Linked DNA regions of Homo sapiens: region 2 is linked to region 1. The links come from fine-mapping of genetic effects on gene expression. A gene starts in region 1. The other region holds a variant in brackets. All regions are shown on one strand. Distances are between the middles of the regions.

Region 1 (8,653 bases):
GTGCAATAATGAATAAGGAAATTGTAACATCATGTTTAAAAAAGCTCTCAGTGAAAGAAAAACAACACAGAATTTGTACAGTGTATAATTTGTGTTAGAAGAGCTCTCTGAACTTTCAAAAATTCATAATCACAGTATGAAATACATCAGGACCTGAACAAAGGTTTTCCCAAACAATATTTATCGATAATATGCATACACATTGTGGCTTTTTCCTATTTTAGTCTATTCCATTTATAAACAAAAATTGTGGTTGTGACCCACTGGATTTCATAATCTACTAATGGATGTCAACCAGTAGGTTAAACACACTGATTCAGGAGAATGAGAAGTGATATAACTGGATTGTGGCTAGTTTTTTCAAAAATACTACTATGTCCATTTAGCCAAATCCTGTTTATTGCATTTAATACTCTAAGGGATAAAAACAGACTGGAAGAAAAGAGGTAAAAAGGGAAAGAGAGGGTTTGCATGAATGTCCTCCACAAAGAGGGTAGAAAGAAAACTAAAATTACCACTTACTCTGTACCACCTATGTGCTGGACGCTGTGCTGGGCACTAAACATATGTGACTTCATTTAATTCTTCTAGCAACTCTCCAAGGTAGATTCCATGGTTCCATTAACTTCATTTTACTGATGATGAAACTGAGGCTCATCAAGGTTAAGAAATGTGTTCAACCTCCCACTGTAGGAATGTGGCAGGGCTGGGATGTAAATGGGTCGGCAGCACTGAGGTCACCAGCAGGGTGGCTCTCATCAGCGAGCATGATCTTTGGTCCACAGCGTACAGCCCTGACTGGAGGCAGGACAGGGGCAGACTGGAGCTGGATGCTACTACCATGTTCCCGCCCACAATACCTGCCAGAGAACTACATCACAAGTGTCCTTTTTCCTTATATCGTGGAAATGCAACTGTGATGCCCATTAGAACTGACAGGGAAACTCTGGTCTTCCCTTTTTAATTTAACTTGGCAGTGATCACCTCTGGAAAAAATATAACCAGCTACCTTGGACACTGGCTATCCTCATTTACTATACTGTGTCTGCTCAAACTTTGGTTTGGAACAACAGAGATATTCTGAGACATAAAGAAGGAATGAGACCAAGAATAAAGCAAAGGCACACCAGTAGCTCAAAATCCCACGGTCAGAAAGACACGGTCAGAAAGACACTGGTATATCTCACTTACAAAGATAACAACAGCAATCATTTATGGGGTTACTATGGCATGCCAGCATGGAGACACTTTACATATGTTACTTGTTCTTCCTAACAACTCAACTAAATAGCTATTTTTATTTTTATTTTACATACCTCCAAACACAACCTCAGAGAGATTGAGTAACTTGCCAAAAGTAACAGTAGCAGATTCAGGAGTGGAATTCCATCCATTTTCTACTGCCCGACACTTTTAAGGGTATGCTCGGCCAGAGAAACAAATCCAAGCACCCTATGCACACAGCCTCAGCTCCCTATCACTCCTTTACCTTAAAGAAACTGGGTATTACCTAATAAAACACTCCTAGACATTCTCAAGAATAGTGTGTGTAATTGTGTAGTGGCCCAATGTTAACACCACTGACTACTGAGAAAATTTTAAGGTTATAAACAAAGTTCTTATCTCCATAATTTGGTGGAGGAAGAGAATGTCCTAGTGAAAAGAACCAAGACTTTGGGAGGCCAAGACAGGAAGATTGGTTGAGCCCAGGAGTTCAAGACCACCCTGGGCAACACAGCAAGACTCTGTCTCTACAAAAATTAAAAAATTAGCCATGCGTGGTGATGCATGCCTGTAGTCCTAGCTACTCAGAAGGCTGAGGTGGGAGGATCGCTTGAGCCCAGGAGGCTGAGGCTGCAGTGAGCCGTGTTCATGCCACTGCACCCCAGTCTGGGCAACAAAGCGAGACCCTGTCTCAAAAAAAAAAAAAAAAAAAAAAAGAACCAAGTCTATTGAAAGGAAAAATAGGTTATAAACAAAAAGAGGAACAGCACAAAACATCTCCACAGTGAAGACATATAAAACCACCAGGTTATGTTTTGAGATTATCTTGTTTGAGGAAAGAAAGGCCTGATTTGGTTGGAGAGGGCTGCTCCCAGCCGGGCCACTCAACTGCATAACCTCAGAACTACATCTTTTATTTCTTTGTTCCGTTATGCCAATCGCAAAAGAAACAAACAAAACACAAACCGAGCAAGCAACAGTGCTGTTGTCTTCACCTTACCTCAAAAGTGTACTACTTACAGGACAAGAGAATAAGCCCCTGAAGAAGTACAAGCTGCAGGAGCTCAAAGCTGCATTTGTGTTCCTATCGCAGCAGGATTCACACTGTACTGGAACTGTTGCCTCATTATCTGTCTCTGGAACAAACTGTGAACCAGTCAAGGGTAGTCACTCTTATTTATCTTCACATTCCCAACAGCCAGTAGTGCCAGGCAAGGAGCAGAGGCTTCTAAACAACAATGGAGGCAGATTTCTTAATCCCTAAAATGTTCAGCTTCCCACATATGAGAGGTAAGCAGAAATAACGCATGTGTATGCACACAGACTAGTTTTACAATGCATCGTGCAGCACTGCAAACTAAAAAGGAGTCCATGAATAGATGTGTCTAAGGTCAGTTAACTGCTATTCAGCTCTTCCTGGGTCACTCAGTTCAATTACAAAAGCTTTGGTGTTCATTTAATTCATCCTGTGCAATCACATTACTGAAGCAACTCTCAAAATTACTCTTCATAAAACTAGAAGAAACACACAATAGATGGTTTATTAGGATCTTTTCCTTTTAGTGAAACATTTTAGGTCACTGATGACAGAAAAGCCCGGTGCTAGATAGCTGGGCTAACTTGAACCATATCCCTAGTACAGGCAAGTTGCCTGGGTTCCAGTCCTGGCTCTGTCACTTTATGGTGTATAATTCTAAGCAAATTACTTCTCTGCTCCTTAGTTATTTAAATAGAGAATGTACTTCAAGACTATTGGGAGGATTGAGTGAGTTAATATATGTAAAGCATTTAGAAGAGTCCCTGGCACATAAAATCCATGAAACAGGCATTTGCTATTGTTTTTATGCTTTGCACATAAAATGAAGGGGATGGATTAGATTCCTTCCAGTTCCAAGTCTAGGAGTCACCTTGGGAGTAAAGCTACATTAGGCACAGGTCACATACAAGAGAGTAGTATATAAATATGCTCTGATGATCATTAAAGACCTTCTTAAAGTCAGCTTCCATTCTGCACAACAGCACCATCAAGAGCCCTCTTAAGGGTGATGGCCAAGTCTCAAAAGCAATGACAAATAAACTTCCTATATTAAAAGGAACATATTAAATAAGAATGATAATATCTCTAAACCTCCTCTGCCACATACAAGTTCAAAGTTATACACCATGTAGATATGACAATGTTAACTCTAAAGCACCTTGAAGATCACCTGCTCCCTCCCTGTCTCTCATTCTGTAGATGTTCTGTAGATTAGGAAACTGAGCCAGCTACAGGGTGGAGATGAAGAGACTCACCCACATCACATCCTAAGTGAGCGTGAGAGCCAGAATTAGAACCCAGGTCTCCTGACTTGCTCTACAGTCCTGTCTACTTCCTCACAGCTGGGCAAATCCTTTAAGCCACTCACAAACAGTGTATATTCCTTTATGTTAGAGCTGGAAATTAAGAATATGATCTGTTTGTGAGGACAACATCAAGAATCAGTTAGTATAATCACTGTAACCTGGCTTAGGCATCACCATGTAGGTTAGAAAAGCAGGATATTTCTGTGCACCTCAGTTTCCATAAGTGCAAGGCAAACAGAGATCCTTGTTCAAAGTGATCATTTAAAATCTCACATTGCTATCTTCAGATTCCACACAACAGATATGAACATGGACAAAATGCCTTCTACCAAGGGCTTTAGTCTGATTAAAATGCCAGGAGTCTACAGCCATATAAAAAAGGGAGGCCTTGAAAAAGTCGTCCAGAGGATGCAAACTTACCAAAAAACAAAACAAACAAACAAAAAACACACACACAGCTTGCTTCCAGTTCCTTACTTATCTACACTAGGAGGATCACAAAAAATGAACAAAAGACACCTATGCATACAGCCCTTCGGACTTATTCTGAACTGTCGATGTAGGTAAATCCATACAAGGATCATCCTGGGAAGTATTATTCACTTAGAAGAAAAAGGGAAGGAACCCCAAAAGAGAGGGGAAAGTGTGAAACGAAAATAGGTTAATCTTATTCTAAGTTTTCAAGAGTTGAGACACTAGGAAATAAAGGCACTTATTTAAATAAACCCGGGATGCTGAACCAGGAGTGTAGGTACGAAGCTGGAGAAATGTTAAACAAAGGAGAACAAAAGACCCCTGGGGAAAGATGTGCTGAATTATGAACTAATGTCATCCTGCACTCATTTGCTATATTTACACACCAGTTTTCATCTGCAGAGCTCAAAGGACTTGACTCTCATCTCGAGTGTGCTAATGAAGTTCCCTTGTGCGACAAATGGGGCAGGTACTGTATTTTTCTCTTCACTAATGGGAAAACGGTGCCAAAAGGAGGCCTGGTACCGCCGGAAAAGAGATCCAGGCCCTCTGCCTCTCATTCTGGCTGGCACAAGTCTCATCACATCATTAGGAGTAGCAGTAATAAGACTGACTCATTATCTGTACCGGACATTGTCTGCTGACAACTTTACAGGTATTTCTCATTGACTTCTCCTAACAACCCTATGAAGCAGGCACAATTATTATTCCTATTTTACAGACGACAAAACTAAGGCACAATAAGGTGGTTTTCCTGAGGCACTCAGCTACTACATGGAATCAAAGTTTAGATCTCGCAGACTCAGTTGCAGCTGAGCTTGCAGGGGGGTCACGACATCAAGACTCCGGCCGCGGGGCTCTCTCCCCTGTTCCACAGCTCTGCCCCGGCTCAGGACTCAGGGCCCGGCCCGCCCCCTCCTCAGCCCGAGAGAACCCGGTGGGAGGCGCCGCGAGGGGGCCGGGCGCACTCCCGCGGCTGCCCGGCCGGGGGCGCGGCCTCCACTCCGGGGCTGGAGGGGCCTCCTCGGCCTCACCCCTGCGGGCGAGGGGCACCGGAGCGGCGGGAGGTACCTGGGGGCTGTCCTGCAACGCCTCCTCTAGCAGGAGCTTGTCCACGGCGGGCATGGTGCGGCGCGGCTCAGCCGAGGGCTGGGTTGGAAGGACAGAGGGCAGGAGACGCGGCGGCCGAGAGCACTCCCCGGCTCTGGGCTCAGGCGACGCGGCGGCCACTCCGTGCCCGCGGCGGCCCCGCGCGCGTCCACGCCTGGCCAGTGGCCGCCGCCGCCTGCCCGCCGGCCCAGCCCCCGGCCGAGCCGGATCAACAGGAAGTGTGGCGCGCCCGGCAGGGAAACCGGAAGTGTGGTGAGCTCCGGTCCCGACACCGGAAATGTGGCGCCCGCGCTTCCGCCTGCGCTCGCCGGCTCGCGGGGAGCGGGGGGCTCTGGGTGCCAGTCCCGTTGCTGAGGGAACCCTTCGGGTGTTTGTTCTCTGTGCTGAAGGTCCGTCAAGTCAATGCATATGAAGTCCAAAAGAGGAACTCGAGGGTAGAAAGATAAGGTTTTATCTGCTTATGGCTACCCAGAAAGCCTTTTGAGTTGAAGGAGCGAACAGATTTTTTCTTTTAATGGAAGGAAAAACCCACACTTCCCACACCACTTTTTCTAGATAAATTTCGACGCCCCTGAAACAGCTCTGAGAGCAAAGAGGTCGCCTATGCTATGGGAACAAAGAAAAGAGGAGAAAAGCTGGATAACTGACTCGTCTGTGATAATCAGAAATAACCACTTTGGAAACCACAGCTATTTGATGTGGTCATAATTAGGTCTCGTCCTCCTGGTTTATGTTTTGTGATTTTGGAGAATTTCATAATCAAATGTTTAGAATTGGAAGGGCTAGATAATCTAGGTTCCAGTGTTGTCATTTAGAGATGAGAAAATGGGACCCAGAGAAATAAGTGGTCTGCCCAGGGTCAGTTAGTAAACGCCAGAGGAAGAAAAGAAGGAAGGGAGAGGGATGGAAGAAGACTGGCAAGTGGAACGTGACACCTTTTTACACGGAAGGCAAGGGTTTCTGAAGTTCCTTCTTTAGAAGTTAATAAGACTGGCCGGGCGTGGTGGTTCACGCCTGTAATCCCAGCACTTTGGGAGGCCGAGATGGGTGGATCACGAGGTCAGGAGTTCAAGACCAGTCTGGCCAAGATGCTGAAACCCCGTCTCTACTAAAAATACAAAAATTAGCCGGGCGTGGTGGCATGCGCCTGTAATCCCAGCTACTCGGGAGGCTGAGGCAGAAGAATCACTTGAACCCGGGAGGCAGAGGTTTCAGTGAGCCGAGAGGGCACCACTGCACTCCAGCCTGGGCAACAGAGCAAGACTCCGTCTCAAAAAAAAAAAAAAAAATCATGCAGTATGTGTGTCACCAAAATCAACAGAGGGGATATGGTAATATATAAATTCTGCATTCTGCAGAGACCTCTTAGGTATATCAAGACCCAATCTGCATTGCTGACACCTCTGACAGTCTAGTATAGTAGCATGCTGCCTGATCACTTGAAAACTCCAAGGCCATTATTCCCTTGGTCTGGCCAGCGCCAACCTGACCTGAACCATTTTATGGCCTCCATCTACCATATTTTCCTCCACAGTATTCTTTCTTCCCTATTCTTTCTTGCCTCCACCATACTCTTGTCTTCCCTATAGGTGGAATCATGCTCACACCATATTTCTTCCCTTTCCTCTATTTTATACCGCCTGCCATTCAGTTCATTTTACCTCATCCAGTGTCCCAGACTCTCTTCTCACTGAAATCTAATTCCTCACGGCCAGACTCATGCTCTTCCTTCATCCTGATTGCGAGAACAGTACAAGGATAGTATTATACCCAGGGAAATAAATGTGCACATTTTAATTTGAAAATATGCATTACAAGAAGTTAGTGCCCTCAGAACCCTTGAAAGGGCTCAGACAGCCCCTTGGGAATCACAGCATTTTTCATGTACCACCTCATCTTCTAATTAAAGTTACTTTTCTTCAAATACTAGTATTCAACATTCAAAAATTGTTTAAGCTATCCCATTACTTTTCTGCATTTTCTTGCTACATTATGGGCTAAACAGCCTTAGTGGGATTTCTTGGAACTTAAGAACTGTTTACAACATTGTTTCTATGGGAAAATCTATCCCAAATTCAAAACAACTAAGTTACAAAAGTAGATCTGGAAATACAACACATGCATAAATGGTTTTAATTTATCTCATTTGTTAATTCATCCAATCATTCATTCATGTATTAAATATAGACTGCTCAGTGTTAAGCACTGTCTCCCACTTGTTTGATTCTCATTTAAATTCTGAAGGCAAATATCCTCTCCTTTGATAATCTGTGAGAAACTACATAAGAGGAATTTTTATGTCAACATGAACATTTAAAAATGTTTCATTAAAGAGTATATATCTGTTCCTATTAAACTATTATGCAGGTGGATTTTAGAAATCCACCCCACTGTCTCTGAAATCCCTGGTCAGCTGTGAAGTTGGTGACAGGAAGTATAAAGATGGACAGTCTGGAGTTGTCGTGATGTCTGAAGAGAGAGAGGATGAATTATATGGAGGTGTAACCTGTGACCCATTGAAGGCCAGTGGGGAAAAGGACACAGTGAGACACAAAAAAAGGACCCAGGATGGCCAGGTCAGAGAAGGCCTGGGGCTTCAGGAGTAAGAGAGAAAGGCAGGAGTGAAGAAGGCAGCTGTTTTGGGAGATGCTTAGCAAACTGCATGATAGGGCACACGCATTGAGATTCTTTCCTCTGCCAGTCAAGCCCTTTCTCCTGCCTCTTGTCTGACAAACCCAACCACAATCATCAAATCCCAGTTTAATGTGACTTTTTTGATGAAGTCTTCATTTACTCCTGTCCCCCCAAGCAGAATACATTTTCCTTTCCTTGAGTGTGCTTCAGTAGCACTTGCCGAGATAATTCTAGAATAACACTTACCTCTCTTTGTTTCCACCTCCAACCTTCCAGCTAGAATGGGTAGGAACTTGGTCTTATTTATTTCTGTAATTAGAGTGCCTAGTACATTACCTAGCACAAAAGCAGTTGCTTGATAAATACTTACTAAACTATAATGTGTTATTATAACTTATACATGATTGATACTCCAGAGTTTAAAAAATGTTTTCATGAATCTCATTTCATTTGATAGCACAATGCTGCTTTTGCCGTTAATCATTCACTAGGTAGCACCGACTGTGTGTTAGACTCTTCTCTAGAAGCTGAGGATATAGGCTGAAGCAAAAAGTAGTCCTTGCCCTAATGGAGTTTATATTCTAATGGAGGAAATAATAAGAAACAAATACAAGTTGATAAGTGTATGATAACCTTTAGTAAAGGAATAGAGGATCATGGGAAGTGGAAAGGATTCTTTGAGGTGTGCAACTGTTGAGCTGAGAATTGAATCAGGGAAGCCCAGCCCGAAGGAAAGAACAAGTGTGAGGGCCCTGAGGCTTGCTCCTCTTTGAGGAGGAGCAGAAAGGCCAATGTGGCTAAGGACAGCGAGGCGGGAAAGAGTGGGAGGAGATGAGGTTGAAGAGATGCCAATCACTGGCTCACAGAG
Region 2 (8,653 bases), 33 kb after region 1:
GTATGTGGATCATCTAACTCCCCTGCTCAAACCCTCCCATGTTCCCATTACACATGCTGTAGAATCCAAGGTCCTCTCCATGGCCTGTAGGGCTGTACCTGGTGGGGCCCCGGGCCCCCTTATTTCACTCCAACAATGCCACCCTATTGTGTTTCCAAACACACGCAGTAGGCTCCCTTTCCTTCTGTTTGGGGCTTTCTTAACCTAGATCTTCTCATGAAGCCTTTCTTGTGACTCAGGTCTCAGCCCACTGAATCTAAAGTAGTTCCCAGACACTCTCTATTGTGTATGTTTCTTCTCTTCCCGCCACTTGTCACCATCACAGTTTCCATATTTATGTATATGTTTATTGTTGGTTTCCAACATGAAAGATATACTTCTTATGAGAGTAGAAGGAACTTTGTCCCATTCCTTGCTGTATTCTCAAGGTTAAGCAGAGTACCCAGCACACAATTGGAGCTTGATCAGAAGTTGTCAGTTAAATGAATGAATAAATACACGGGTGAGTGAGGACAGTCATTGGGAAACTTGCCCTCCTCTCCATTCTATTAGGTTGGTGCAAAAGTAATTGCAAAAAGTAATTGCAAAAGTAATTGTACCAATCTAATAGAATGGAGGGGAGAGCAGGTTTGCTGACACCACCAAATGCTGGCAAGGATGTAGAGCAACAGGAGCTCTCATTCATTGCTGGTGGGAATGCAAAATGATACAGCCACTTTGGAAGACAGTTTGGCTGTTTCTTACAGAAATACACGTACTTTTACCATATGATCCAGCAATTGTGCTCCTTGGTATTGACCCAAATGAATTAAAAACTTATGTCCACACAAAAACCTGCACATGGATGTTAATAGCAGCTTTAATAATAATTAACAAAAGTTGGAAGAAACCAAGATGTCTTTCAGTAGGTGAATGGATACATTACTTTTATGGCAAAAGTCTCAATTACTTTTGTGCCAACCTAATAATATCATGCTATTAACAGAGGAGGCGGCGTGGGGTGAGGAAATGCCACTAAGAAAGTCTCAGATGAGTCTCAGCATCAAGGTGATGTGGCACATTGAGGAACACAGAACCTGGATCAGCCTGGCTAGATTCAGTCCGTATCTCTGTGCTGTCTGGTAAGTTCTTAAGAGTACCATATACTAACTGATTGCACCACTGGAGCTACAGGTAAGTTCTTTAAACTCTCTGCAAAATGGAGGTGATAGTAAAAGTACCTGCTACTGTTTTGAGTACTAAATACAATCATACATACAAAGCTCTTAGAATAGTGGCTAGCAGGTGGGCACGGTGGCTCATGCCTGTAATTCCAGCACTTTGGGAGACGGAGGTGGGAGGATCACTTGAGCCCAGGAGTTGGAGATCAGCCTGGGCAACATGATGAAACCATGTCTCTACACAAAATACAAAAAATTAGCTGGGTGTGGTGGTGTGCGCTTGTAGTTGCAGCTACTCAGGAGGCTGAGGTGGGAGGATGACTTGAGACCAGGAGATAGAAACTTCAGTGAGCCATGATCGCACCACTGCACTTCAGCCTGGGGGATAGAGTGAGACTCTGTCTCAAAAAAAAAAAAATTATTGCTATTAGGTCATTGCTTGGTAAAACTTTAAGCCTCTGCATTCACATCCACCTCTTGCCCCCACCTCATCATCAGCTTTTCCAAATGCTGAGCACTGCCCAGTAAGACAAAAGCCTGCCCCAGAGGTTCTCAGAATTCTCCCCATGACACTCCCATGTGCTATGGAAATTTCTAGGTTCCTCCCATTTGGCTTTACTCCATCCCTTTCCCTCATACTAAAGAAAGCGTTTTGGAAAACAGGTGAAATATAAAGTTATAAAGATAATCTTGCATCTTTTTAAACTTAAGAACAAAGTGTAAATCGTTAGAAAACTTGATTATTTGTCAAATGATCAAGACAAATGAGATTGAAAACCACTGGCCTTCATGGCATGCTTAGCAAGAAAGGGACTAAAAATGAAATGGGTAAGAAAGCCCTGAACAGTAACTTCTGTGGTCCCAGGAAGTAGTCAGTGACATTACCTGGAAGTGTTACAGAACCAGCCCCCAGAGAGGGACCTTTCATGAGTCCCACCAGCAAGTGACACTGTTTCCCAAAAGTAATAGAATTGGATCCCTTCCCCTCCACAGGGGAGCTGCAAGAGCTGTGTCCTCAAGCAAATAGAGAGAGAAGCCACCCCCTCTGGGATAAGTAGTACATCGTTGACACTTTGTAGGGCTAGCCTTCCTCAGCAATGTAAGTGATGTAAAAAATGGTGCCGAAATATGAACAACAATAAGATACCACTACACACCTATCAGAATGGCCAAAATGCAAAATGCGGACAACACAAAATGCTGGAAAGGATGTAGAACAACAGGAACTCTCATCCATTGCTGGTGGGAATGCAAAATGGTACAGCCACTTTGGAAGACAATTTGGCTGTTTCTTACAAAACTATGTATACTCTTACCATATGATGCAGCAATTGTGCTCCTTAGTATTGACCCAAATGAATTAAAAACTTATATCCACACAAAAACCTGCACGTGGATGTTAATAGCAGCTTTAATAATAATTGACAAAACTTGGAAGCAACTGAGGTGTCTTTCAGTAGGCGAATGGATAAATAAACCAGGGTACATTTAGACAATGAACTATAATTCAACGCTTGAAGGAAATGAACTATCCAGCCATGAGTAGACTTGGAGGAAACTTCAAAGAATATTATAAAGTGAAAACGCCCATCTGAAAAAGGCTATATACTGTATGAGTCCACCTATGTGACATTCTGGAAATGGCAGAACTATGAAGAGAGTGAAAGTACCAGTGGTTGCCAAGGGTTGCGAGGAGGGAGGAATAAAGAGGCAGAACGCACAGAAATTTTAGGGAATCCAAACTGTCCTGTATGATACTATAATGGTAGATACATGTCGTTATACATTTGCCAATACTCATAGAATGTACACCAAGAGTGTCAACTATGGACTTTGGGCAATAATGAGATGACAATGTAGGCTCATCCATTGTAATAAATGTAGCCACTCCAGTGTGCGGGTGTTGATAGTGTGGGAGGCTGTGTTGTGGGGGGCAGAGACTATATGGGAGCTCTTTGTACTTTCTATTCAATTTTGCTGTGAAGCTAAAGCTACTCTAAAAAATAAATTCTGTTTTAAAAACCCTTTAAATTAAAGCTTGAAAAAGTCCATGGAGCAGAGATCTGGAATAAGTAGTCCCATGCAGGAAGTCCCATCCCAGCATGTCAGAGTGGTAGACACAGAACATCCGCAGAACAAATGATTCCAGCCCAAAGACCAGAAGAAAAAGACTTATCTTGACCATCCTTTCCTTAGGGTTCTTTTCTTAGGGTTGCACTTCCTCTGTGAGGAGGGAATAGGAAAATGATAGTCAGACCCCAACAAGTGGTGGTTTGTGATAGAACTGTATTAACTGAATAATAAAATGTATATAGTTCTCCCTTCTATTGTGTTCAATTGCACTCCTCATTTTGTGGCCTTTGTAAAACCCCAAAAGGAAATCTTTGGAAAGCCATAGTTATGGATCTATATATCTGAACTGGGTTGTGTGACTGTCTCAGTTTGGGTTCTTCCCAAACCAGACCCTGAGACAATAATTTGAGTATAAGTCGTTTATTTGGGAAGTGCAGGGAATACTGGTAGGAAACGGGGAAGTGACACAGGAAAGGAAGCTAGTAAAGCCTCCATTATTTTATTCTTATTCTTATTCTTATTCTT[C/A]TTATTATTATTTTTGAGACAGAGTCTTGCTCTGTCACCCCAGGCTGGAGTGCATTGGCGCGATCTCGGCTCACTGCAACCTCTGCCTCCCAGGTTCAAGTGATTCTCCTGCCTCAGCCTCCAGAATAGCTGGGATTACAGGCGCCTGCCACCATGCCCGTCTAATTTTTGTATTTTTTAGTAGAGATGGGGTTTCACCATGTTGGTCAGGCTGGTCTTGAACTCCTGACCTCAGGTGATCCACCCGCCTCGGCCTCCCAAAGTGTTGGGATTACAGGTGTGAGCCACTGTGCCTGGCCAAGGCTCCATTATTAAACCAACTACTGCTGTAGGCAATTGAAATGTAATTTCACAGGGATGTTCTAAAAAATGGCGTAAAAAACACATCTCAGAATAATTCTTCCTGAGTAGCAAGTGGCTAGGGGAGATACATTTGGAGGGCTATTGGAGTGCAGACAGGCTGTGGTCATTTCCTGGTGCTTCTCTGCACAAGCATATGTCAGTTAGAATAGCTTTCCATGGTTCCAAAAAGAGCCTCCAGGCCCTAGAGGCCCACACTGGGAGCTGTGTCATCAGCTGGAGCGTCGGTGAAGACTGTAAGCAGGACACTGGTAACAGCTGCTACATTAACCACTGCAATCATCCAGGTTCATCTGGTTCCTATCCCAGCCCCACCATTACCAGCTATAAGATCTTCAGCAAATTTGTAACCTTTCTTAAGACTCGGTATTAAAGCTTAAGAATTAACACCAGCTTATGAGGTGGCTGTGAACATCAACTAAAAAATGTGTGTCAAGTAACCCTGGCACATAGTTTCAATTTATATATATGCGTGTGAGTCTGTGTGTGTTTCTGTGTTTGTGTGTACACATAAAGACACACACACATATTTCTTGGAGTAGTGAGATAAGAGACTGCGCTCATTGAATGTAGCTTTAGCAAGGCTCACTTAGACCCGAGAGGGCTACATATTACCGACCACACTGTAAAAGACTGATTTTTATATCAGATCATCACCCCGTTATTGAGCATATAAAATGTAAACAGGATCTAGATTGGCATTCCCTGGGCTTTAAGAAACTTTCAAGAAAGTAATACAAGAGAAAACTTCTGTAGCTGTCAGATGGCTTCCTGGCTCTCCCTGCTCTTACTTAGGCTATGATTTGGTCCTATAAACAAGACCCAAGTCTGGCTTTTTCACTAGTGGGAGAGTGACTCTCCTCTCCTAGCAGTGGAGATGAGGAAACAGAAGGTGCTGTAGCTTTCCAAGGGAACTGTTTATCTCAAGATGCCTCAAGGACCTCCACGTTCTCCTCTCAGTTTGGGGCTGTGGCTTACTCCACTGCTAAAACAATGAAATCTGCCCCTGAACAATAATTGTTTTATGGAAAGAAAAATGTTGTCAAAAAAAGAAAATCTTCATTGTTTTGCAAAATCTCTAAAAGGACCAGATATAAACTGTTGATTGACCAGTGTGCTTATTTTTCAAATGGAAAAATAACACCTTTTTTAAAAAAGTGACCTTTCATACAAAAGATACTGAAATTTTACAGGTCTTTCTTTTTTTACTGAGATATTATTGACATACTGAGAAAAATCTTGTATTAAAAAAACTTTTTGGTATTAAAAAAGGATGGATAATAGCTGCATTTGGTTGGATGTAAAATGTTAGGATTCAGAATTTGATTTGGATTTTAAAGTCAATCAATCTTCCAGTCAACATTACTAAAGGTCCAATTGGCAAGAGTATAAACTAAAAGAAGGCAAAATATTTAACAAAAGTTGATGGTTATTGAGTTTTCAAAAGAATGTCACTTTCTAACAGTTGTTCTTGAGAAAGGTTTTGCAATATCATCTGGGTATTTTTAAGTAAAGGACCAAGGTTTGGTTTCTGGTTTGATGTAAGGGCAGTTTGAGCCAGAACCAAGAAATGTACTGGTTCACTTTTTACAGTCTCTTCTTATCCTACACTCCTATGGCCTGACTGCAGCGAGGGATATCTTGAAAAGCTACCAGTTCAGTGGGTCTCCTCTGGGCATTCATTAGTATACCTACTTTGTTCGTAGAATGATTTCTTTCAAGCCTGGAACCAGAGTTGATTTTTGTACATGCAATTTCTCCTAACTCATTTCAATGTTTTGTTTCTCATGATACATTTTAATCTTTCTTAATTTTAGCCTTTTTACTTAGTCACCCCAATTCTTCGAACTGTCTGTACGTGTGATACCCAAGGTCTTATACCCTATTCTGTTCAGAGGAATGACCAGACAACCCAAACTTATAGCTTTCCACTTACAGACTCACTTAAGCCCTGCTAAAGTGGGACTGAGATTTTCTGATTGCTTCTCTATCTGTCAGAATTTTGATTTTTAATCCCTGTCTGCTGGGTTTCAAAGTTCATGCATTTTCTTTATATCACGCACCTCTCTTTTTGGGTGCAAAACTGAAAGACAACAGCCTTTATATTTTTGATGAGTGTATGACTAATGCTGTTGCATCTGGATCGGAAAAGAGGAAATTCATAACAAATGGCCAGCAGTAATCACCTCTAAAGTACTTGAAATTGGTTGGGAAAAATTTTCAGAAGCTTTCCCAAAATTTTCATTTACCTCTTCTAGTGATTTTGGAGTTTCCCAACATAGATATTTAAGATTTTTAAAATGTTCCTTATTCATTGTATTTGCTTTCATATTTACTTTCATTATCATCAATTGAAACATCTTGTTCCTGCTATTTTTTTCTGCAAATAGGTGAATTTGAACAACATCAAGGCATAAATAGGCCTCTGTGGGCTGATCTGGGAGCCCTACCATTTAAAAATTGTTTATAAGAGAAAACATGTTCCAATTCTAAGCAAACAAATTAAAACATAACCCTTTTGTACATTGGACATGGCTGATTTGTGCCAGGTTAAGAGTATAAATTAGAAGCAAGGCTGGCCAAATTCAAATTCCAGCTCTGTTTCCAGCTAGCTGTGTCATCCTGAGCAAGCTTCCTAACCACGCTGAATCTCTATTTTCCTTTCTTCTTACCTGGAGGACATAGTACCTACTGCAGAAGGTTTCAGAGAGGTATGAATGATGTAATGTACATAAAGCACAGAGTAAAACTTAATAAATATTAGCTATTTTGATCCTGTTTTTAAGGTCCCATTCAGGCCCCTGACTTTAGTAGGAAGGTGAGAAGGAGGAAGGCCAGGGTCTAGGCTTTGCTTCTGGGGCCACAAGTCCCTTCTAGCATGCAAGCCAATAGTTTATTACAGAAAGACTTGCTGTCATAAGGATTCCCTGTATGACCCTGAAAAGTTTCACCATCTTCTGTGCCTGTTTTTTCTTCTTTAGGATGGATGTCAGCAATAATAAAACCTTCCTCTCCTTAACTCACAGACCTACTGAGAAAATAAAGGAGAGACTCTCTGCTTGAGGTCTTTGAACTAATCAGTTCCACATAAGGTGTCATGAATCCCAGACTTGTGAAAGTTCACATCTGTAGTCATCCTTTTTCGGTGAGTGAAGTAGGGAGGGGGAGACCAAATTCCAGTGAGTACTGGAACCCCTGGCTATGGATCTGTGCTTGGGATTTTGGGCTCCTCACATTCCAATACTTACAAGCTTCAGTTGTATTAAAGAACTTGGGAGACAGATGGACTTGAGGTCTGGCCCCAGCTTTGCCACTTATCAGCTATGTGACTCTGAGCAAGCCACTTAATCTCTCAGAGATAATATCAGTATCACCCTCAGAGGGCTGTCAGGATGAAATGAGGGGGTGCACACAGCATATTTAGCACAGTGTCCAACACAGGCTTCGTGCTCAAAGTGTCAGATTTGATGATGATGATGGTGATAACGATAATTTTTGTTTATTTACTGCTTAAAAGTGTCCACCCTTAAATATCACAACCGTTTATTATTCTTTTCTTAGTTGCTCTGCTGCTGCAGTGGTTTGAAACACAGGCTCAGGCTCTCCAAAGATATTCCCTTCTCTAGTTTCTGATAGAGTCATTTTGAAACTATTGCCCTAATTAAATCGCAATGTTGGCTGTATATCTATTGTCTGTTTTATAAGCCACATAATTGTTAAAAGAGAGAGGATGCTAAACATCTCTTTCTACATTTTCTTCTTTCTTTCAAAGTAATGAGTTTTCTCATTGTTTTAAGGAATTAGTCATGTTGGCAGGGTGTGCAGATTGTCATTTTGATGGATCCTCATAGTATATGACAAGATTTGACAAAGAGTTTTCAAAAATCATTAGGCTTGTCAAAATTCTATTCTGTGCTTTGTCAAGAGTCACCATCCTATATTATACATCTGAGAGTTTGTCAGATAACAAACAGAGTTGCCACAGCTGGAGTTGGATTGTGCTCCTCAGGTCCTCTGCACCAACTTCAACCTGAAAAACTACAATTTTGTATCTTAGAATTCCAGGTAAGATTTCATTTGAAAAGAGGTTCACGGCTAAAACGCTTGTGCTTTTCTGCACGCATGTCTTTCTGTAGACTTAGACAGGAAATCCATTTCTAGACTGGGAAAAACATTTTAATTAGCCATTAGTAGTGGGTCAGAGGAGTAAAACAGGAACAATGGGAAGTCTAAGAGAAAAAGGGAGGTAAGTATAGACCAATAGACACAGCACATTGGAGTAGAAAAATACTTTTTTTTTTTTTTTAATCAGACAGGATCTCAATCTGTTGCCTGGGGGGAGTGCAGTTGTTCCCTTTTACTGGTGGAGGGTCTTGACTATGAGTTGTCCAGGTTCTTGGTGTTTGGAACGAAGAATTGGACAAAACACACAAACAAAGCACAATGAAAGAATGAAGCAACGAAAGCACAGATTTACTAAAACAAAAGTACATTCCATGGAGTGGGAGCCTGCTCCAGCAAGCGGCTGAAGAGGC

Evidence for each region.
Region 2: its variant is fine-mapped to the expression of APPL2 in tibial nerve (GTEx, PIP above 0.99).

The regions. Positions count from the first base shown.
Region 1 is chr12:105,230,847-105,239,499 of GRCh38, forward strand. APPL2 (adaptor protein, phosphotyrosine interacting with PH domain and leucine zipper 2) reads right to left here and starts at 5,328. Exons shown (of 21, transcript NM_018171.5): 1 at 5,113-5,328. The coding sequence starts at 5,166. RefSeq lists silencers at 4,907-5,156, 5,207-5,346 and an enhancer at 5,211-5,711.
Region 2 is chr12:105,263,586-105,272,238 of GRCh38, forward strand. No RefSeq gene overlaps it. Among named protein-coding and RNA genes, the nearest start is that of APPL2, 32 kb to the left of the region's middle. The variant C/A (reference allele first, on the strand shown) is at 3,759.